Linked DNA regions of Homo sapiens: all the other regions are linked to region 3. The links come from fine-mapping of genetic effects on gene expression. A gene starts in region 3. Each other region holds a variant in brackets. All regions are shown on one strand. Distances are between the middles of the regions.

Region 1 (8,000 bases), 150 kb after region 3:
CAAACAAAAATCTGGATCCAGTTTCTCCTTGGCAACTCTTCTTGCCAAGGAGAACTTTATGGTTGTCTTTGAAGCCTCCCTCAGTACTACTTTATAGGGAAATTATCAGCTTTTGGGGTTTCATCTTTTAACAGTATTCACCATCTTGACCATTTCTTTCATAATCATAAGCATAAATGGGTATAATTGTGTTGATAAGAATCTCAACTAAAGTACTTCATTCTCCTATTTTAGTATATTGAATTTCTTAAATTCTTATTTAAGTACATTGAGGTTCTTAAATTCAAAAATAAATATTAATGTTGGCTAAAGACTAGTTTTGACTTGTTAGTTAAAAATTTGTCAACTTAAACAATGTAGTTGCAGATACTTCAGTAGAAATCAAGTAAATGAAATTTATTTAGACTTTATCATATTATATAAATATTACATTTCTATCAGCAGATTCCATTATTTAAAAATAATTTGATTTTCAGTAACATCACTAAATAGAAATTTTTTATTATACTTTTTATAACATTTGAAAATGCTTAGTAGGCCAAAAAAAGGGTATTAGAAACTGCAAAATGAGTAATTTGTTGGAGATACAATATACCTGCTTTAAACTTAACATGAATTGAACTATCTGAGCTGCCTGCCATTCTATCCCTCTCCCATTCCCATGCCAAACTATAAGGGAGAAACAATACTTTCTTTACAATAATATGAAACCATATTTGGCAGATGAACCCTATTAATATTGTATGTTATATGTTACTGTATGGGAATAGTTACACAAAGTCATATTGATTGAACTTATTCTTTATTTAATAGCTTTTCAAGGGAAATTTTTGCTATGTACACTATTTGCCTTACAGGGTCCTGACTTTAATTGTAAGATACCATTCTACTATAGTAGCCTTGATGCATAAATGAGCTCCACCTGAGTTATGTATTAAGCGGTCACAAACTTCTTATCTCTGTGTTAGGCTTATCCCCATTCTTTCAGAATTAGGAAAAGTCACTCTAGCATGGTTCCAGTCTGTGTGTCTGCCCTTGCTTTTACCAAATCCACCAGAAAAGTAGCCTCGCAGTTTAGAGGTGATTAAGTTTCTGGTTATCAGAAGTACCTACAGCAATCCATTCAGTGAAGAGGTTTCGCTAGGTTGACATAAAAATAGACATTGTACCTAAGAGTGGTTATAGGCCGGGCGCGGTGGCTCACGCCTGTAATCCCAGCACTTTGGGAGGCCGAGGCGGGCGGATCACGAGGTCAGGAGATCGAGACCATCCCGGCTAAAACGGTGAAACCCCGTCTCTACTAAAAATACAAAAAATTAGCCGGGCGTAGTGGTGGGCGCCTGTAGTCCCAGCTACTTGGGAGGCTGAGGCAGGAGAATGGCGTGAACCCGGGAGGCGGAACTCGCAGTGAGCCAGATCCCGCCACTGCACTCCAGCCTGGGCGACAGAGCGAGACTCCGTCTCAAAAAAAAAAAAAAAAAAAAAAAAAGAGTGGTTATAGAAGAAATGGTAGGCATGGTCAGCATTCTTAGGCAATGTGGATTTCACATTTCCTAAGCATGTCTCAGCATGTTTGAGACACCCAGAGGGAAGGAACAAACATTTGTTCCTTCCTCTCTACTTTTGTTAGAGTCCTGGTTTCTGCACTCTTCATCTGCTGTCTACCTGTGCAGAGAGCATAGACACACACATGAACATATAGATAGAATCATGTTGTGAATAGCACTTCCAGTTTTAGAAATTTGTGAATGTGGTGATAAAGGTAAAGCACCTGAGACTGAAAGGAGTGATTAAAATCTCAGGTAGTTTAGACATGGGCAAGAGATCTAGTTAATGAGTTTGTTCCCTCTCTCCCTTGCTTTTTATTCTTTATTGCATAGAAATGTTGGTGTACCAGGCATAAAGGCCAGAGAATATTGTGGTTGTTCTTGTTCACTAAGGTGTTAATGACTTACTCTAGTTTCAGATTTTTTTTTTCTCTTCAGAAGGCTGTGCTTAAGAGGGCAGACTGTGAAATCATACTGCTTGGGTATAAATCGTAACTCTGCCACTTACTACCTGTGTGATTCTGGACAAGTTATTTAAATCTAGTGTACTTCGGTTTAGTCATCTGTGAAATGGGGATAATGATATCTGTTTCATGAAGTTGTTGAGGATTAAATGAGGCAATATATGGAAATTGCATAGATCAATGTCTGATATGTGGTGAGTGCTATATAAGTGTTGGCTTTAAACCTGTGTATCTCAAAATTCACCCATTAGATCTATATTTAACAATTACACAAATTTAAACACATGGATACATTTGCAAATATGCTGTATTCTAAGTGTAATAAATGAGAATTATTTGCCGACTCAGTCATGCTTAATTTAACTACTTTTATTTATTTTAAATGTATGAAGGACATAAATAAAATCAATTTCCCCTCTTCAACTGTTTATTTCTTTCTTGGGAAAGCAACAGTCTCTTCCTGCCAAACTTGGATATAAAAGTTATCAGTCTCTCTAGTATAACACCTTATACATGATGAGTGCTCTATACATGTTTGCTGAATATAATCAAATTCGGGAACAATCATCAGATTTACTAGATTAACTAGGCTGGGAGGTTGAGGAAGGAAAGAATCAAAGTTGATTTAAGGTGAAGCTTGAAGTAGGTGGTGGTGGTATTAATGGTAATAATAAGTGATTTGGAAACTTGTACTGTGTGACCATGGGAAAGTTACTTCTATGTGTCTTAGTTTTCTGGTCTCTAAAATTATGATAATTTTACATGTATTTTGTAGGGTTTTGGTGAAGATGAAATGTGATAATAGGTATGAAGTATTTCATTTATTGATATAATAAGTGAGAACTGCTATTATATTGTTATTTATAATAATTTGAAGTACATTTTCATGGTTATATTTCTTGATGTACAAATTCTGTTTCTAGAATGTCGAGTTATATGAGTTTGTGGAAATGTCAAGAGGCCAGGTCATCTTGGTTTCTCTGCCTTTTTAACTGTGTTAGCCAACCTACGCCAAGCTCTGGAGTAGAGTATTAAAGTACCATTGAGGTTTGCATCCTGGGGTGGGAGTAGGAGAGAGGAGTATATTGATACTCTTTTCTAAGATACAGAGTTGGTCATTCCTTAGTTTAAAAGATAGAATTGAGTTCACTGATAGGAAACCACTGATAGGAATTACATTTATAGGCATCATCAGTGATCAAGAGTTGGCATTTTAATCATGAACATTTTTCAGTTTATATGTAATCTATTATGGTAGTTATTTTTTTAAAAAAGAAGCAATATTAAGTTGAGTAGAGTTTGAGTGCTTTTTAAAAAAATGAATTGCTAAATGTCCACCATGGTTTTCTCTTCTGTCTGTATTATGGCTTGCAGAATGAAACAGTCATTTAT[C/G]TTTTTGCTCTTTCTTCCCTCTGTGTTTTACAGTATCATAGAATTTTCAAAACTGAAAGATGCATTGGTTATATATGTTCTGTCTCTTTATTTCCTACATGAGGAAACTGAAACGACATGTTTGAGATTTGACCAGGTGTAGATTTGTGCTGTATGTAGAGATTTGGCTAGGCTATGTGACTAGTTAATGACAGCCTCTGGCATGACAGAACTCAGATATTCTGAATCTTATGCTAGTGCTTTTTAACCCCTTGACTTTAGTACTTCCCAACTCAAAGAACTTTACGTTTTCTGCCATATACTGAAGGAATGGGAAAAGAGAGAGGAGAAAGGTGAAAATAGAAGAGGGTCTGCAGCTGATAAAAGAGGACATGGGACATGATATGATAGAACAGTTTAGCAAGTATAGTGTATTGGGTAGAATAGCATAGAATTTAAGAGCTTGAGCATTAAAATCAAGCTGTCTTGGGTTCTATTTCTGGCACTTCTGCCTCATTGCTCTGTGACTCTGAGCAAGTTATGTGTTTTTACTTTAATCTTTTTTTCTTTTTTCATTGATTAAAAGGGGGTGGGTACTAATAATAACTTCCTCACTAAAGTTTGGGGCTTATACCTGTCAGTGGAAAGGGGAAAACCAGTTGTGTGGTGATGATTTAGCTTTAAAATACTTGATTTAGCTGCTGTATATGATTCAGCACAAGATGATATCCGGGATTTTTTTTTTATTAAGGGATAGTAATAGGTATGTTCTGAGGCTTTTTGTTTCAATACATGCTATGATTTCTGATACCTATAGCAATAAAGGGATATGAGGATTCAGTTCATTTAAAAAGCATCAGCAGTGGTTTTTTTCACAGACCAGTTGTTAAAAACAAAAACGGACCATAGACCCAACTAGGTTGAAAATGAAAATATGTGGGTACAAGGATTTAAGTATTTCTCCAGTCTTCTAAAGTTCATAGACAAAGCCATAGATTGGGGCCTTGGGATAAGGGAAACAAAAATAAATAAAAACTCAGTGAAAGTAAACATAAGCTTTCAGATTCTATGGGAAAGTAAAATCAGCCTATAAGATTATCTGGATGAGATTAATGTCATTTTTCTTGCAAATCCTGGACCATTCCTGCCAGATATGGCTAAAGGGAACTTTAATTTTGTTTAGCGCTCTCTCCATTCTTAACAGGAGTTCAGTATTTTTTCGTTAATGTGGAAGAGTTTGGCTAAGAACCTCTCTATAGTTTGTAGGTAGTGAGTTAGAAATAGGATAATAGAACCTTGGTTTTTCTAATGTGCTATCTATACAAAAAACACAGGTCATTCTGACCTCAGCAGGGTCATACTGGCTGGAGGTGTAGAAGGAACTGGTGGGTAGTTCATTTACATTTGACAGCAGATGCCTTAAGAGTGTATCTATGGGCAGAGGCAACCTGTAGTTTCCTTCCTCCAACAGAGTCCAGTGGCATAAGAACAGTATAGTTGGCCTGCTTTTAGGGAGGTTGGACTTACCCTGATCCCCCAATTTTAAGATGTTGAGATTTGTAAATGCATTCAGTTTCTTAAATGTTAAAGGTGAATAAATGTGTATCTTATAGTTCAGGAAATATGCTTAGACATGTAAGTCATATTTGCCTAAAGAGTTACTTTTTAGGCTGGGCGTGATGGCTCACACCTGTAAACCCAGTACGTTGGGAGGCTAAAATGGGAGGATTGCTTGAGCCCAAGAGTTTGAGACCAGCCTGGGCAACAAAATGAGACCCCCTCTCTACAAAAAATAGAAAAAAAAAAAAATCCAGGTCTGGTGGTGCGCACCTGTGGTCCGAGCTACTCAGGAGGCTGAAGTGGGAGGATTACATGAACCCAGGGGTTGAGGTTGTAGTGAAGAAAAAAAAAAAGTTGCTGGTTCACACCTGTAATCCCAGCACTTTGGGAAGCTGAGGCAAGTGGATCGCTTGAGTCCAGGAGTTCAACACCAGCCTCTGCAACATGGCAAAACCCCATCTCTTAAAAATTTAGCCGGGTGTGGTGGTGTTGGCTGTAGTCCCAGTTACTCGGGAGGCTCAGGCAGGAGAATCTCTAGAGCCCGGGAGGCGGAGGTTAGAATGAGCCTTACTACACTCTAGCCTGGATGGCAGAGTGAAACCCGATCTCAAAACAAAAAACAAAAAACAAACACAGCCCAAAAAACTTCTTAACTCTTTTAAGACAGCAGTGGAGATGCTGTAATTAGGCAACAAATAGTTAATTACGAAAATAATTTTCTTGGCTACTGTGAGATTCCAGAGGAGGGAGATTACTTTGGATGGTCAAGAAAGACTTAATAGAGGAGGAAGTGTTTGAGTAGACTGTTACAGGACAGATAGCATTTGAATAGGGCTGGAAGAAAGTCTGGAAATATGGAATGATGGAAACAGTACAGTGGTCTCATTACAAAATTCGGTAGATAATAAATCAGCTTACTTTGTGGGAAAATAGTACGAGATAAGGCAGGTTAACATTTCTGTAGAAAAAAATGTTATCTATTCTTTGGGAGCCAATTAAAAATAGATTTTATACACAAAATGTTTTATAAATATTAACTTACTGTGGTATGAAGAATGGATCCAAGGTGAAAGAGTGACAAAAAATAGGATGATCTGAAAAGATGGTACATGGACCCACGGATAATGAAATAAGACTTGGATTGGGAGGATAGTAATCAGATTGCAAAGTTATATAAGAAATTTCACAAAGGGGAAAACACAAAACTGGTACAACTAAGTGACTGGGAAAGATATAAAATCATGTAGACTCACTTCACCCACAAAATGGTAACTCCTGAATTAAACTTCATGTGTTTTATTTAGGCTTTGTCAAGTTAGCTATGGTTGTATTAAAACAGATTGTTTGATTTTGATAAATAGTTTTCCTTAATACATGGGAAAATCGAGTTGTGTGAATAAAGAAATATAAAATAGCTTTTACTCAGTTGTCCCATTTGTCAGCATTGATGGGTAATAAAGATTAGTGTTACTTTTTCTTCTCTAGTGTAGATATTTTCTCAAAATTGTGTGTTTGCTATTGTTTTTATTTTTGAAGGGGAAAAAGGTATACATTTTATAGCTACTAGGAGTTCAAATACAGTAATTAGAAAGGACACACGAATTTTGAAATAGTATTTTATGCCTCTTGATCTCAGGTACAATACACGAGATGAAGCAGTTAAATAGCAAAGCAAGACAGAAGGGTCAGAGAATTAAAGTAAGTGTTTTCTATATATTGCATCTGTGTTCCCATTAATCTCTGTTTTGTTATGTAACTGCTCCTTCTGAATGTTCTGAATGTGAAGAAAACTATGAGTAAGAAAAAGGGTGTGTTTTAAAGTTAGGTTTAAATAAAGCCAGAAGAGTAAAATGTTTTTACTCTTAGTTCTGTTTGAAACAGCACCTGCCTATAAATTATAACCTAAATGTTTTTGGATAAGAAAAAATTGGGTTGTGATGATGTAAGCACCTTTAAATCTCTTGCTAGCAGATATTTAAAGTGAAAGAAAGCACATACTGATCAGATTGCCCATGTTTCCATTTTAAGACAATTAAAGCTTCTGTTTTTTTCAGACTAGCCTTTCTTCCTGGGGACAACACTTACTGAGAGGCTTTGCTGTGGATCTTTTTGGAAATAACCTTCATGTCAATTTCTCACCTTACTGTGATTAACTTTCTAGGCCCATGAAATAACATCTTGATCAGGACTGATCTAATCTTTATAGTTTTCTTTTTTAATCTTCTAACTGTTCAGATTTTAAAGTTAACAAGTAAAAATCAAAGCATATTAATCTTTGAATCTTTATGTCCCTTTTTGTAATTGTTGAGGTCTTTCTTGACAGCCTGTTTAATATTTTTTCCCTAAGTTTAGAGATTGCTTATTTGTGGGAATAAAAAGTAGGGTGACACTTTTTTGTACCCACTTGGGTTTTTAAATTAATAACAATGAAATCATAACCAGCACTTGTCACAATTTAGTTTACACACTTTCATGTTACCTGCTTTGATCTTCACACGAGCTCACCAAGAAGCCATTTTTAAAATCTTCTCCATTTTAGAGGTGACAGAATTGAAGCTCAGAAAAGGTAGATAACTTATCAGATATTAAATGCTTAGGACTTTATCCAGGCTGTCTCTAAATTACTTTCCCTTTTTACTGTGTTGCATTTGCCAAATTATAAAAGAGACCCCCAGAACAGTTATTTCTACTTGTGCAGGACTTGAAGGACAGAGTCACTAGAAGTTTTTTTGTTTGTTTGTTTGTTTTTTGAGACGGAGTCTCGCTGTGTCGCCCAGGCTGGAGTACGGTGGCGCAATCTTGGCTCACTGCAAGCTCTGCCTCCTGGGTTCATGCCATTCTCCTGCCTCAGCCTCCCGAGTAGCTGGGACTACAGGCGCCCACCACCACTCCTGGCTAATTTTTTTTGTATTTTTAGTAGAGACAGGGTTTCACCGTGTTAGCCAGGATGGTCTCGATCTCCTGACCTCATGATCCGCCTGTCTCGTCCTCCCAAAGTGCTGGGATTACAGGCATGAGCCACCACGCCCGGCCTTAGAAGTTTCAGGATAACGGTACT
Region 2 (8,282 bases), 570 kb after region 3:
ATTTCATCGTGGCTTTGATTTGCATTTCTCTGATAACTAATGATATCAAGTATCTTTTCATGTGCTTATTGGCCGTTTGTATGTCTTCTTTGGAGAGCTATCTGTTCAGATTCTCTGCCTATTTTAAAATTGGGTTGTCTTTTTATTACTGAGTTGTAATGGTTCTTTATATATTCTGGATATCAGTCTCTTAGTACATATTTAATTTGCAAAATTTTCTCCCCTTCTTCAGATTGTCTTTTCACTTTTTAAATGCTATCCTTTGAAGCGCAAAGATTTTTAATTTTCATGATGTCCAGTTTACTCTTTTTTCTGTTGGTACTTGTGTTGTATCTAAGAAACCATTTCCTCATCCAAGGTCATGAAGACCTTCTCTTCTTCTGCAGTCGAGTGAGAAGTGAGCAGAACTGGTGTAGGGACTGCTTCTACTGAAGGGGGTGCAAGAGAGAAGACTTAGCCATGTCATCCTTGATCATAAAGGTGATCAACACTGAGAAAGCCCAAGGGTACACTGGTCCCTTCAGTCAAGCTGCATTAGTTGACGGGATCCTTTACATTTCAGGAGAGCTAGGCATGAACCTTTCGAGTGCACAGCTTGTGCCAAGAGTGGGTAACAGAAGAAGCTAAACAGGCCCTTAAGAACATGGGTGATATTTTGAAAGCTGCAGGCTGTGACTTCACTAATGTGGCAAAAACAACTGTTTGGCTAGCTGACACAAATGACTTCCGGGCTGTCAATGTAATCTACAAACAGTATTTTAAGAGTGGTTTTTCTACTAGAGCTGCTTACCATGTTGCTGCTTTACCCAAAGGAGGCCAGGTTGAAATTGAAGCAGTAGCTGTTCAAGGACCTCTCACAACAGCCTGTCTATAAGTGGGCCCAGTGCTGTCTAGTCCGGAATTTTTAACGTCTTCATTGTCACAGTTGATATAACATCTTAATTAACATCTTGATTTTTATAATTGATGAAAAGTGTAAGTTTGACTAAAGTATCCAAAGTTATGGAAATACTATATAATAGAATTAAACATGAATTGAAGGTTAGATGGTGAATCCAGTTACTGATGTTACAAATTACACTTATGCACACCCATATCACTGAATGTAGGAAAGAGATACTCATTACATAGTTACTCAAATAACAGGGAAATAACATGTAGGAAAGATGAGTTGTTGTTCCTGAGAAATAATCAAGAGCATACCTAATTCCAATAAATTGAGTGATGTCATATATTTAGTTATCATGTCAGGTATGTGATTCTGGTAATTCTGCTTTTACTAGTTTAAAATTAAAATATTTAAATTTGAATGGTAGGGGTAAAGAAATAGAAAATGGACCAAAACTTTATATAGATAATATTTTTCTAATGGATAGAAAATAGACATGCAGATTTAAGCTTTACTCTTTTTCTAAGAATTTAATAGTTTTAGCTCTTACATTTAAGTCTATGACTCATTTTGAATTAAATTTTGAACATAGTATGAGGTAGGAGTCTATTTTATTCTTTTGCATGTAGATATTAGTTGTCCCATCACTGTTGGTTGAAGAGACGATTCTTGCCTCATTGAATTGTCTTAGCACTATTCTGTTCCTCTTAAGTTTTATTTTCCAGGCTCCCTACCATTCAAGTGGTTTCCCAGACATTAGTTTTGGTGCTGAAGCTTGGATATTAAAGCATCTGCTCAAAAGAGACTGTTTAGACCAGAAGTGACTGAGATACTACTAACTATTAAGTTCAAGTTAGGATTACTGCCATTGTAGGTAGATGAGAGGTTGTGAGAGAAATTAGAGAGATTGTGAGGAAAATTAAGCTGTTACTAGAAAAATAAAAACAGTAGCGTTTTCTCTGGATGTCTGGAGGTTGGGGAAGCATATTTTCAACCCTGCTTTGTGTGCAGCCTTACTGATGGTAACTTGGTCACCTGGAGAGATTTCGTGACAGACACAATTTCTCTACTGTAGACTGGACTTTTACACATGGACAACAGTAGTTACTTGAAATAGTGAAAAAAAATGAAAATAAGCAATAAAAATCAGGAATTCTCATAGTGGCTGTGTTACTCTGCTATTAAAAAGCTGTGTAACCTCAGGCAACTGCTCCAACCTTGCTTTATCTTATATTAAATGGGGATACTGGATTTATGACCTCTGGCTCTCTCTGGCATTAAAGTTCTATGACGTTGATGCATTTGAAGATGATGTTAACGTGGGCAGGCTTTGATGTTTAGAAACCACATTATAAAAACCTACCTAGCAGTGCCAGAAAGTAAGGAAGTGCTCCAAACACACACACACACGCACGCACGCGTGCGTGTGCACTCACATTGATGAGGTATGGCACAGGGACACAGGAACGAAATACAGAAGCTGCCGGTGGCCAAAGTCACAAAATAAGGTAGTATTGGATTATGACCCCAAAATAAAATAAATGCTCATGGTGTTCACACTGATGTAACAAGTAAATGAATACATAAATGGGGAATAATAGAGGACTCTACCTTCTGGAAGAGTTCCAAATAATTTATTTAGATATATTGCCTTCAAGTAGGTAGGGGCTCACACCCCATTCTTGAAGTTGGGCTGCACATAGTGAATTCCTTCCAGAGTGTACAGGATGAAGTGGGGGAGAAAAGAGTCACTTTTTCTGGTGGACTGGGGAGTCAGTAGAGAAACCTGATAAACATTACGTCAGCCACGTGATCAATTTCAGCATCAATCACATTGATAGTATCTACCCTTGATATGATATGCTGAAAATGACACTTTACCTTCATGGTCTTTCTACCCCAAACATCAGACAAATTCCAATTGAGGAACATCCTGCAAATATACCTTGCGCAGTACTCCTCAAACTGTTACAGTCATCAAAACCAGGGAGTCTGAGGAGCCGTCACAGCCAAGAGGAGCCTGAGGAGCTATGATGACCGAATGTGATGGAGTATCCTGAGTGGGATCAAGAGTCAGAAAAGGATGTTAGGTAAAAACTAAGGAAAGCTGAATAAAGTATGGACTTTGGTTAATAATAATAGATCAGGATTAGTTCATTCATTATGACACATGTACCATGTTCGTGTAAGATGCAGTAACAGGGGAAGCCGAGTGTGGGATGAAAGGGAATTTTGTATTATTTTAGCAGTTTTTCTATAATCTAAAGCTTTTCTATAGATAATTTTTCGTTTAGAAAAACCTACCTGGGGGAATATTCTAACACCCAGTTTGGTGCCTCTTCTGTGAAGTCATCCTCAAGCAGCCTCCTTCCCACAGTGCCACTGCTTTCTCCGTGGCACCAGTTGCATCTCTGTTCTGCCACTGGCACTGCAGTTAACTTCCTCTCTTGTCTGCCCTGCAAGGCTGTGAGCTCTTCATTCATCTTTATGCACAGCTTCTGGCACACAAGACGCACTCACATGTTTGTTAGCTGATACAATGAAAGAATGAGCCCTAGAACATATGTTTCCTGAATCCACTACATGTACCACTTTTTGCTTTGAGTCCCTGTACTCGAAGATGCTCACATTGTAGCTAAGAGGCAGAATAGTAACGGGATAATGATGCCCATGATGTAGGAAGAACAGATGAATCTCCGTTATAGAAGAGTTCCAAATAATTTAGGAAGAGAAAGAAATGCCTACTCTCTCTACTTTAGAGAACAGCATAAGTTTTGCAATGAGAATGTGTCAGAAAAGTGCTTTAAAAATATGTTCATCCCAAGAAAGATGCAAATAGTACTGGGACCAACTCCCCTCCTCCTCCTCCTTCCTGCAAACATACCTGGCCCAGTATATGTAACTCCTGAAACTGTTACGGTCATCAAAACCAGGGAAAGTCTGAGGAGCTGTCACAGCCAAGAGGAGCCTGAGGAGCAATGATGACTGAATGTAATGTGGTATCCTGAATGGGATCAAGAGCTGGAAAAGGACGTTAGGTAAAAACTAAGGAAAGCTCACTTCCAGATATTTCCAGTCAGAGACTTTATTACTTCATTTAAGGCTTTTAGTCTTTGAAATCCTCAGGTATGATGACTTATCTGGAGGCATACACTTGATTTATCAACTAAAGCCTTAGGTTTCTCACTCTGGTGAAGGCAGAACCTGGAGACCTGGCAATAGGAGGCACATCTTAAGGGAGGTTAGAGGATCTGATCAGTTCATTGATCCTAGAAATTGACATTCAAAAGATGAGGTGGGCCTAACTTGATTCATTTCCTCAGAGGCATCACACACATTTCAGGATTACACTCCAATCCTACCTAATAACAGTGTACAGATTAAGGAGTGCTAGGTTCTCATTTGCAAGGAAACTTTGTGAGCAATAGATTTGCAACTTTGTTTATACATTGACATTTTTCATAGGTTGAATCTGAGAATACTTACAAAAGCACATAGAGTAAAATAAAAAAGATATTTCTAAAAGATCATAGGAAATATAAATGTAAATAGAATCAATTCTGGGGATAGTGAGGACAAATAGAACCCAGCTGTGTAGTCCAATAATCTTGAAGGTGAATTAGAGATGTAGTCCTGAGACTTCTGGCAAAGTGAAAAAGGAAACACGATCAACTTCATGACTTTTGTTGTCCATAAGGAAAAAAAAAACCCAAAACATTTCCTCAGGGGAATTAAAGCTTCTCTTGACATATAATGCTGGAAGTTATACCCAAGTTTCCTTGCTAGCCTGGGGACCTGGGGACCCATGAGCAGAGAGAGGAGGTAGATGCTGAGATCCAGGCATGCACACTGTCATCTCTACATGCCTCAGGCCCACACATCACTGAAGAAGAAACAATAATTGTCCCAGAGTCTTGAATACGTCATCAGGTATGGGCATTTTATTTCC[A/G]GATTTTACTTCCTTACTGTGAAGTATGAGATAACATCTGTCCTTCTGCACGTGGGATAAGGGGACGAGTCTAGCTGCTAAATGTGAGTGTATGAGTATGATTCTGAGGTCTGGTTTGATACCAGGAGTTAATAAGATAAAGAACATAATAAATACATTAGACCAATATTAGTACTTTAGATAGTGAGTTTATGATTTCAAATTTGCAGTGAAGTTAATGCTGGTAAAGTTGAATCATATTGATCCTCTTGCCTTTCTTTTGAAGATATTAAAATTTAAGTAAGAGCTGAAGAAGATGATCCTTACAAGTCTGCAGTCATTCAGAATTACTCCACTTGTGCTCTCTTCTTTTGACAGGGTTACTAGGCAAGGAGATTTGGGCCACAGACAGATTTTGGAAGGAGCTTTCTAGTGATGGATGACAGGACTCTTGGTCCTGTCATGTTAACTTGTTTTTCATGACATAAAGACACAGAAAGCATGCTTATCAAGACTGTACGTGACCCAAAGCAGGCAGAGACAGCCCAAGTACAATATGGCAGAACCAAGATTCACAATGATCTCAATGGTCAGAAACAAGGGATTAAAAATCAACTTGATTAAACTGAAAAGAGATACATGATATCTGCTGTTTCTTTTTCTTTCCGTTTTGGGGATTAACTATAGAATGAAGACGCATGAGTTAGTAGGACTTCTGGATGATCGTAAGCTCCACTCCCTGGCAGCAGCACAGATACACTCATGTGTATAAGGAAACATGCTATCAAGTTTTAGAAACCTTTGAAGTACCATTTAGTGGATTTAGTGAGATTGCATATTCTCAGATTCGATGCTGTTCTTTCCATCTGCTATGGTTATAATAGGTGCATAGTTACTTTCCACAATCAGAGGTTTTCAACAAATAAAAAGTAGTTATGGAGCTCCAATTGTATATATGACATTGGTCCAGGTACTGGAGCTAAGAAGATAAGCAAGACATAGTCCAGATCCCCAAGAGAACCAGGCATCTCTCCTAAATATGTGTAGATGAGGGATGGATTCATGTACCACATGTGTAACCCCCAGTACCTAGAAGAATGAGATGGACAATAAGTGCTAAGAGAGAGATTTGAAAACACTGATTGGGGTATGAACCTGAAAATCACTTAAAAAATAAATCTGCAAAGCAAGGGATGTAGGCTCCAAAGACCGTCATTTTTATATGCCTGTGTTCTTGCCATTTAAAAAGTTTTACATTTATAGGTTCAACTAGTGACTTACTATTCTCAAGGTATAGCCATCAAATGAATATTTCTAACTGGATAGTGTGTGAGTGGGGAGGGGTTGAGAAGGATCTGTATTCTGAAATGGAGGCCAAGAAGCTTTGTTTATGATGGAAGTACAGAGGTGGAGTTCTCGTTCTCTTCTACATGTCTCTAGGACCCTCCTGTGGTTCTGTTGAAATCCAGGCTGTGAAAGAGTCCACCTCTGCCACCACCCTTTTTCTTTGTTCCTTTTTTCTCCTCTGCACCTGGATTCAGCATTTAACACCCTTCATTTATGAGCAACTTATAATAAACTACTCATATGTGATTAAGCCATTAAAAATAGAAGTAGAAAATGTAAAAGCAGGAGGAGGGATGGATTTTGTTTTGGGAATCGGCCCAATCCCATGAACTTTCTGTTCTTTCTGTTTGGGGCTAAATGGTCCCGATTCTTCATTTCAGACTAATTGCAAACTGGTGTGCATTACATTTTCCATCCCAGAACAACTGGATTATGGCTTTCTGTTCATTCCTGAACTCTAGCCACTTGCAATGGTGCACAGTGTTCAGCTGGCATCTCATCCAGCAGATTTTGGCCAAGGGTGTTCCCTGGAAACTCGAGTGTCTAGGCATGAGCTCAGACACTGGCGTGTTTGCCATCCCTCTAAATGTCTCCATGTGCTTCATGTATAATTCTAACTGTAAAGCCAGAAGGTAGCTCCTCTTCTCTGCATGCAGTAGCTTTCTCATTGCTCCTGTCTTAGGGATTTATCACTCATTCCTTGTATGACAGGAACCGTGAAGATTGTTTTCATCACCTCTACTGGAAATGGCTTGAATGAAGGTCTTTTAAAAATCTTTCTTTACATCCTTCTGGGGGCTTTATAGGGTAGAGGATCAGTTCATATAACTTGGCTATACCCTGTGGGTCCTTAAACCATGATGCTTCCTGTAGCTTTTACAGGAAGCATTTCCTGTGAAATCTCTGAAATAGTTTTCACGTGTAACTTAGAAACCAGCTGTCAGCAACTCATTTGCATGGTATCATCAGTATCCTTTTTGCTTTCTCAGTCAGCTCATTTACCACCATGCCTTCCAGTTGGTGTTGGTCTCATTACCAGCATCTTGGTGGATTGTAAGATGCAGTGACTCTGGAACCTCTGCCAGCTCTGAGACCTCGAGGTGGCATTGAGCTGTCTTGTGGGAAGGCCTCCCTTCTGTGTCAAGTATTCCTCATGGTTATTACCAGCTTGTTTCTTTAAAATCAAATGTCTCGTAAAATGTGAATTTCTGGTTTTATACCTGCAATGATTCAAAAACAGCCTTTGTTTGCCCCTTTGACCTAGGAACACCATTAAGGAGAGAAAGAAAGGATGACAGTAAATAATCAGCCCTAGGGACTCTCCGTCTAGGAAAATACAAAGGTATAGCCACTCTACTGTTTTCAAGCTCTACATATGAGAGCACTGATGAATGATTTTGGGGAGGCACTTATAAGCACCAAGTAAGGGTGTTAAATGAATCCACATTGTCTTGGGAGGTGTTTCACATGACTTGGAGTGTGACCAGCCCTATTTTCCCTGATGTAGATAGACTTTAATAAAGCATTAGGTCCCAGTGCCATTGTAAATTTTGTTAATACCAAGTGAAGGCCAAGGGAATTGGGAAGACATCTATTTTCATGTGAAAACATAACTTTGGAAGCACATAAAGCAACTAATTGACAAAAAAAAATGAAAGCATATTTCCAGAAGGCCAAGAATGTCTTGGCAATCCAGATAAATGCTGTTTGTAAAAGCAAAACTGATAACCAGGAATGACTGTGGAATGGAGCCTCATGAACTCCAAGATAAGATAAATGAGTGAAAGACAGGAGGAGGGAAGTGTGTGTTTCCTGGGAAAATGTTCTCAGGGTTATTCTAAAGCTCACTTAGACAGGCTTACCAAGGCGACAAATACATTAAAAACAAAACAAAACCCTCCAAACAGCCTTAGTTCCTTACTTGTAGGGCCTTAAAACCAAAACGTGACTGTTTCTCAGAAAATCATGGTAATTTTTAACAGAATTACCTATTGAGAAGATCAAGAGTTGTGCTTGACCTGATATTTGGGTTGAGCCCTGCCTTCTACTCTAGGGGTCCCCAGCCCTCAGGCCATGGACTGGTATAGGTCTGTGACCTGTTAGGGACCAGGAACACAA
Region 3 (8,260 bases):
GCAAACGTGCAGTGAGCTGAGATTGTGCCACAGCACTTTAATCTGAGCAATAGAGTGAGACTCTGTCTCAAAAAAAAAAATCTATTAGATTATAACTTTCTTGAGGGCAGTATGGGTTTTAGACTTTCTGTCCTGAAACATTTAACACCATGCCCGGCATGTGAGAAATGCACATTAAATACTTTTCAATATTAACTTATCGATAGGGATTAACTTATACTACACAAATAGTACTATTAATTAACACTGAATTTGTATTACTTAGTTGTTTCTCTCTGAGCTTTTCAATAAAGGCTTCTGGCCCTATCTAGATGTGTCAGCAAAGGCCCAGAAATGAGTTATAAGTGATACAAAACTCCACTTTTTATATTCTTTTTGTCTTCTATATAAGTCAGAGCTATTATAGGAGATTCACTGGTGGGAATCATTTTCTCTTATTAAAAATGACACAAGCAAAGGCTATATTATGAAAAATAACTTCATGTTATAATGTCAAATGAATGATAGCTTTAATTCCAGCTCCTCCTTTTTGGGTCTACTATGCTCTTGGCACTACGTTAGGTGCATGGTACTGACAGATGCATGTCAGTCCGAACCCTCAAGGGGTTCACAATCTAATAAGGAAAATAAATTATAAAGTAAAACTATACGGGCCATAATAGATATGAAAAACTTCACCAATCAGTCCCTAAGTAATGAGGGAGCCCCTATGACTGAAGGTTTGGGCAGACAGATATTCTTCCTCTGCACTAGTTGTGTGAGCAGGATGAGAAGAGAATCTTGAAAACAGCATGAATCCAACATGTGGGATCACATACCTTCTCCTTCTGCAAGATTTCTTTCCAGTTTTACTGTGGAGTCATAGAATCTTATCACAGTGCTATGGTTTCAATGTGTCTCCCAAAGTTCATGTGTTGACAACTTAACCCCCAATGCAAAAGTGTTGAGAAGTGAGACCTTTAAGAGAAACTTCTAAGAGGGTAGAGCCCTCATGAATGGATTACTCTCTATTGTGTGTGCTCACTTGCCACGGGATAACACGGCAAGAAGGCCCTCTAAAGATGCCAGTGCCATGCTCTTGGACTTACCGGGCTCCAGAACCATGAGCCAAATAAACTTCTTTATAAATCACTCAGTCTATGGTATTCTGTTAGCAGTAGGAGAAAATGAACTAAAACACATGGGAATGGGGCCTTAAAAATGATCTAATCAGACTTCCTACCTGACGTTTATGTCTTTGCTACTAAAAAAATGGTCATTGGGGTGGTACTGTGTAGACCACACTAGATTACAGACAACAGAAAATTCGAATCCTATTGGTCTAATCAGTGAAGATAGACCTGAATTCAGAAGTTGCTTGATTCAGAGCCTCAAAAATGTCACCAAAGCCAGGCACGGTGGCTCACGCCTGTAATCCCAGCCCTTTGGGAGCCTGAGGAGGGCAGATCACTTGAGGTCAGGAATTCCAGACCAGCCTGGCCAACATGGTGAAACCACGACTCTACTAAAAAAATAAAAAATTAGTTGGGCATGGTGGCGCGCACCTGTAATCCCTGCTATTTGGGAGGCTGAGGCAGGAGAATCGCTTGAACCTGGGAGGCGGAGGTTGCAGTGAGCCGAGATCCTGCCACCACACTCCAGCCTGGTGACAGAGCCAGACTACATCTCAAAAAAAAAAAAAAAAAAAGTCACCAAAGATCAGATCTCTATGCATGTTTGTTTTCTTGATGTCTTCTTTATTTTAACCCGGCTAGACTTGTATTTGGAAGATGGCTACCCACCATCCAGGGGACCCGTTTTTTTGAGGACATGCAGAAAGAATGGGTTACCTCTGAAGCGCTCTCAGAAAATGAAAGAAAAACTTTTCCCAACAAAGACCAGGAAATTGCTCCTCTCATTGGCCCAAATATGTTACGCTCATTGCCAGCCAATAACTGTGGCAGGGAATGGGATTCTGCTGATTTAGGTTGGAATTATGCTACGTTGCTTAGATTGGGACCACATGCCCCTGTAAGTAGGCAGAGCAGGGATGTGACTCAGAACTGGGCTTGTTTACCAAGATAAGGAAGAGTGGATACTGGGGAGTCTAGGCCACCATAAGTTTCAGGTACAGCCAATGCAAAGCCTTGGAAATCCACCTGACAGCTCCGGTTGTACCGTCCGCCCTCCGTATCTGGGGTTTCCAAATTCCGGGATTCAATCAACTGAAAACAAAAAATGTAGTTAGGCTTACCAGGCCTGAAAATACATGAAAATATAGAGCCTAAAATATAGCCTGAAAATGTACTGAAAATATAGAGATTTCTTTGGATGATTATTTCCTAAATACACCTTAACAACTATTCACATAGCATTTGCATTGTATTAGGTTTTATAAGTAATCTAGATATGATTTAAAGTATATGGGGAAACACACCATTTTTATGTAAGAGACTTGAACATCTTAGAAAATCCAGAGTCTGGGAACCAATCCCACGGATATAGAGACAACTGTACTAACTACAGTAATGGCATATGGTAGCTGAATCTACCTCTCTTTCCATCCCAGTCCGGAATCCAAAGGCTCCTTCTTGCCATGTTGTCCTCGGGCGTTGGCTGCTTCCTCCCATTTGTTACTTTGGAAGTGTCTTCTTTCCTCAGTGTTTCTTCTGCGTGGGCCTTACCGGTCTTTACTGCACTCACTTACCTAAGAGGCAAAACAATGGCTGCCATTCAAGAAAATCTCACTTCAGCCCAGAATCGAAGAACTGGGGCTTATTTTGTCTTCTTTCTACTCTGGGGCTTCTCTGAGGCCAAGTTCAGAACTTGTGCACAAGACAGTGGCTGTGTGACAGAGCCACCCAGGGCTGTCTCCGTTAGATGAAGAGACTGGCTTGATCCATTCCCAAGAACTAGTCCCACGTGCAGTTCGGTTGCTCCGAATGGGATTTGGGTGCGAGGGGCTGACTGGAGATGTGGGGTCTGGGTGAGTGGGGTATTTGAGAACCTGAAGCTCACAAGGCTTTGTCTGGTTTGAGGTACGTTTTGCCCTTTCTCCCGCATTCGGCTCTGCATCGAATCTGACCGGCCGCGCCTACTCTCGGAACGGCCGAGGAGGATGGGTCTCCCGTCTCCACACGCGCGGTGTCTGCGCCGACTGCAGCCCTCCTGGACGGGAGCCTCTGGGCCCAGCTTAGGGTGGCGTCCAGCGTGACCTACTCGGGAATGGCAGCCTTCAGTGTCCTGCGGCCTCGGGTTCCGGGAAGCTCGGGGACCTGGGCAGCGGATCCAGATGCTTCCACAGCTGTGTCTCCGTCGCTCCGCTTCGGGGGCCGAGAACCAGCAAGACCAACGCGAGGAGGCGCCACGGTACCTGCCACCCCGCTCCCAGGAGGCCCGGACGAGGCTTCGTCGGCGAGCGGTCGGGGCCTGCTTCTCGAGGTGCCTGCGAGCGCCTCATGCCCCTCCCCACCGGCCCCAACTCCGTCCCGCCTCACCCGACCGCGGGCTTTGTCCACCCGCCGCGGTGCGGCTCCTCCCAGTCCCCGACAGCTCCTCCCCGCCCCCTCTGCCGGCCCCACTTCCTAGGCGGCGGAGCGGGTCGGGGAGGGAAGGGTTAACCCGCGGCTCTTCCCGGCGCGGAGGGATCCGGAGGCGAGCCGAGCGCGGTGGTGAGGCCGCCTCAGCGAAAAAAATGTCCGCCTGAAGAGACCCACAAGTTCTATTCGGGGGGACCGACAGCCCGCCCCGGGAGGAAGGGGCGGCCAGGCCCGAAAGCCGCCTCCCCCTCCCAGACCCGAGAGCTCGTGCGGGGCAAAGTGAACCGAGCCGCTGGGCGGTGCAAGGGGAAGCCCAAGCCCGTTCTCCCGGCCAAAGTGAACTTTAATCGGGGTGGTTGGATGCGGAGACGGGGCGGCAGGTAATTGCGGGCTAGCGAGCGGGAGTGGGGCGGCGCGGCGGGGCTGGGGGCTGCGGGGCGCCGCCGCGTCCCTGCCGGAGTGGGGGCGCCCCCGTCCCCCGCCTCAACTCCGCGCCCCTTTGTACAGCGCGAAACCCGGGGTCCCCTCCAAGTTGGGGAGCGGAGTGGGGGCGGAGGCTCGAGTCGCGGGCGCTCAGGCCCGCTGGCGGCGCGCTCGGCCTGTGCGCCCCGTTCGGTGCCCGACTCGGGCCGGCGCCCAGGCTCCGGGGCGCGCGGGAGATCGGGCGGCTTCGGCCGCGGAGCCAGGCTCATTGTTCGGCAGGTCCGGGGCAGGGCAGCAAAAGTGGGAGGAGGCCGAGCCTGGGGAGGAGGACGCCGGCCGAGAGCGAGACTAGTTGTCGGGGTTTCTGTTTTCTGTTTAAAAACGCCCCTTGGATGAGCTGGGGGTGCTTTCCGACCTCCTGGGCCCGCCGGGGACGTCCGGGCGGCGGCGGCCGCAGACGCGGGCCTGCGAGCGGCGCGTTCCCTGCAACTTGTCAGTTCTATTGTTGCCGAGCGAGTGAGTCACTTCGCATCTCCGCTCGCCGCCGCTCCGCTCGCTGGACGCCGAATTGCCCCTCACCCCGCTCCTCGAGACCCCAGCCGCGGCCGGGCCCGGCGCGCGGAGCACCCGGCGGCGGCGCGGAGCAGGGGGCGCCGAGGAGGTGGCAGAGACTGGCTCGGAAACTTGGGGGAGAGGCGGCGAGTTGCGGGAGCCGCCGCGTCGATCTCGGGCCGCGGCGAGGAACGCGTGGATTCCGGGACCCGGCGCGGGCACTGAGCCCTCCCGCCCCTTGCTCGCGCCGCGGTGGGAGCGAGTCGGGGTCCTGGAAGTCATCCCGGCGCCCCCAGCGCTCTTGCGTAATCTTCCCCAGTACCTCTCTCTGTTCCCTCACACACTTTGGGCCTCGGTGGTCTCTCGCTGAGCCCGTTTCCTCTGCCCTAGGACCTGCTAGAAGTGGCCGAAGATGAATCCCCAGCAACAACGCATGGCCGCTATAGGGACCGACAAGGAGCTGAGCGACCTACTGGACTTCAGTGCGGTATGAGAGCTTTCCATGGCATCTTGGGGTTCTGCTGAGGTTTTTGTTTGTTTGTTTGTTTGTTTCTTTTAAATAAAGGGTGAGGGGAAGCAACGTGGAGACTAGGCAGCGTGAACTCCATCTGCTTTCTGCTTAAGCAGTAGTTCTCAGGGCTGGAGTCCAGCTCCCCCAAGTTGGACACCTGAACTTTGATGTAATGTCTAGACTTGCACATTTAAAACTTTAATGCCAGAGGGGTCATTTGATTTAACCAGTTAAAAGGAGAACAATGTAATTATGACCTTTGGTTGAGTCACCCTCCCACCGCGATGATTATTGGGGATCTTGTACTTTATATGAAAAAGTGTTGTTTTTTTCTTCAGTACTCCTCACCATTTTCCTCTCCAGTATCAGATGTAGTTTATGGTACCTGAAAGATGTCAGCGACAAGAAAAGTAGTCCAGAGCTAGAATTTCGAGCCTTCTGAAACAGAGTACTTTTATTTTATACACACACACACGTGTGTGTGTGTGTGTGTGTGTATTATGTTCTTAACATGGGAAATGACTTAAAAACATCAACTGAAACCTAAGGGCCCACTGCTTTTATTTTTAATGGGTTTAATTCCTTTATTAACTGCTGTTAGGAGGCAGCACCTATACCTGCTTTATACAATTCAGTTATAATCCTTACTGTATGTAGTAATTTAATGGGCCATAATTCTGACTGTGTATATTGAGATATAATGTAAATGTAATGAAATTCACTTAGTTCTGCAGTAAAGATCATGTGTAATACTATACTGTTTAAACTTAATAATCTTGGACTCTTCCATGTAAATGATCGGGTCTTCAGAACAAAATGTAACCATTATTTCCAATTAATTAGGAAATAGTATCATTCAGTGTATTTGCCTCTCTGGATCTGAATGTATCTCCAATTTTATTTTAACTTCCCTCTGAAATTTAATAACTGATGGATGACTTTTGGTGGACTTTTGTTTGCAAGGAATCTAGAAGAATTTCAGGACTAACAGATATATTTGGGTTATTTTGCAGATGTTTTCCCCACCTGTTAATAGTGGGAAAACTAGACCAACTACACTGGGAAGCAGTCAATTCAGTGGATCAGGTAAGATGATGTCTTAAACTAAAGACTCATATTTTGGTGGTGTGATACATTTTAGTAGAAAAATAGAAAGCATAACATTTAAATATTATTGAATATATGTATATAAAAGATGGAATTGAGTCAAGTGATAATTAGTAAGATTTATTAATTTTAAAAGATGACAGTTCCCTCAGAAATCTGTAGGAAATCAGTAGTTTCGTTTACAATTATTTAAAATGTTAGTGGGGTAAATTTTCAAAATGAATAGAAACTTAGATTTATTTTTAAATGATAAGTATTAGATGACTGAATCCTTTCCTATATCCAGATTACATTATGATAATGTTTAGAGTAAGTTAAAGTAGATCTACACACTAGTGATCTTGTCTTTAAATTTACTTTCAATACATTTATGACTACTGTGCTCCATTTTAAAACATCCCATTTTTCTTAAGTATGCATTTTTTCTTTTTTTAACTTTTAAAAACTCATAATTTAAAAATATTTTAGAAGGAAGGTCCATTCCAGTGTGCAAAAGCTGTAACTTTTTATTTAATTTAAATTTATTTCTTTGTGCTTAAGAGATGAAAAAAATAACTAAAGCCATGACAGCATCATCTTAAGAAAACCAACTGTCAAATCTCTGGGCTGAAACTCAGTAATGCCTCTTTGATGGGTGCTTTTTATTTCCCCTGGTAAAATGATAGTTGGTTTCTTAAAATACTGTGAGAATAAAACATCAGAAAATAAGGTTAATTTCATAACCACCTAAACACTTTATACCACTTTACATTCTAAAAAGTTTGTTTTTAAAAATTGTATACTAATTTATTAAAATTCATTTTTAATTATGAAATTAGAGCTTATGGGGAAAGTATAGCATGTCCTTAATCATCTTAAGTAAGTGAAATGAAGGCATTTTTTGGATTTTAAGTAGGGTAAAGACTAGTATTATTCTTGATCAAAAGGACATCATGAAACGATAGGCAAGTCCCAACTCTTCTCTCACCTCCTTCCTTTTACTGGTAATCATTTGAAAATTGTTACTTTTTGGGGAGGGGGGAGAAAATTTAATAATCTTAAAGTTGTAGAAGATGGCTGTATTTCTTTACTGGTGTTGATACATCTCATTTTTGCAACTAATAATTCATTCTCAGGAACCTTCAGATTTACTTTGACTAATACATAGTAGATGATGCTTAGTATTTTTTAAAAATGAGTCTTGATATTACTGTTGCCTACTGTTCCAGCTTAAGTTATGGTAAATATATATAACTGGACAGTCACTGATACAATAACATGAACTCCAGGAACTTGCTGTTAGAAGTGCATTCTATTTTTAGAATAAAGGCAATTACATTTATTTCACTTTTTAAACTTAAGAAGGATTTATGTAGTCTGTGAAATTAAAAAGTATGTGAACTGGGATATAGATTATAAGCATGGCATTGGAGCAATTTTTGGACTTCAGTACGTTGCATTGCACAAAGAAAAAATTATTTTTCTACATTGCGAATGGTCACCATATTTGATTATTTGGAGTAGGAACTTTTAGTTTTAAAAGTTAGATTTGTTATCCATTGAAAGGTTTGAACTTACACACCTGTAGTCAGTGGACTTAGCAATATTTATCTGTGTGTTTTGTTTTAAATGCTACAAAAAATTGTAATAAAAAAGCTGTGACTTTTAATTAGTGAATGGATTTGAATTTGGGGAAGAGAAAATGCCATGTGATTTTTTTTCAAATCAAGATGTACTGGTAGATATAATTTTTCTGTGGCCAGTTCTTAAAGGGAATGTCTAAAAGAAATTGGTATAGTAACATTATTTTACTTATATATTTTATATTTATATACCTTATTGACATTTGAATAACCTTCTGCCCTGATTTCAAAGGATATTATGTAATACACTCTAATGCCTATGTATTTGCAGCTATTAAGGAGCTAAAGATCTGACTTTCCTTTTGAAGAGCTGCTGTAGTAAAGATTAGGGTTTTTTGTTTGTTTTCTGTTTTGTCTTTGGAGTAACATTTATAAAAACTACATGCCATTTGACTTATGAAAACTAGAGTTTATAGTCAGGTATTGTAATTTCCTTTCTTATTTGTCCTTTTTGAGGAAGACTCAATTTCACAGTGGGCTGTTTTTGAGAAACGATATATAATACTTTCAGAAGCTTTTTTAGCTGA

The links. PIP is the estimated chance that this variant, and not a neighbour inherited with it, causes the effect.
Region 1: its variant is fine-mapped to the expression of TCF12 in whole blood (INTERVAL, PIP 0.92).
Region 2: its variant is fine-mapped to the expression of TCF12 in stomach (GTEx, PIP above 0.99).

What each region holds. Positions count from the first base shown.
Region 1 is chr15:57,066,075-57,074,074 of GRCh38, forward strand. The region is part of intron 4 of TCF12 (transcription factor 12); the gene reads left to right. Among named protein-coding and RNA genes, the nearest start is that of TCF12, 150 kb to the left of the region's middle. The variant C/G (reference allele first, on the strand shown) is at 3,404.
Region 2 is chr15:57,488,113-57,496,394 of GRCh38, forward strand. All of the region lies in intron 8 of CGNL1 (cingulin like 1), which reads left to right. It also overlaps the pseudogene RIDAP3. Among named protein-coding and RNA genes, the nearest start is that of GCOM1, 100 kb to the right of the region's middle. The variant A/G (reference allele first, on the strand shown) is at 4,839.
Region 3 is chr15:56,915,009-56,923,268 of GRCh38, forward strand. It overlaps TCF12 (transcription factor 12), which reads left to right and starts at 3,636. Exons shown (of 21, transcript NM_207037.2): 1 at 3,636-3,898; 2 at 4,884-4,980; 3 at 6,018-6,090. The coding sequence starts at 4,906. TCF12-DT (TCF12 divergent transcript) reads right to left here and starts at 3,491. Exons shown (of 4, transcript NR_015419.2): 1 at 2,532-3,491; 2 at 2,057-2,204. RefSeq lists silencers at 2,796-2,935, 3,456-3,585, 3,756-3,805, 3,896-4,185, 4,236-4,675.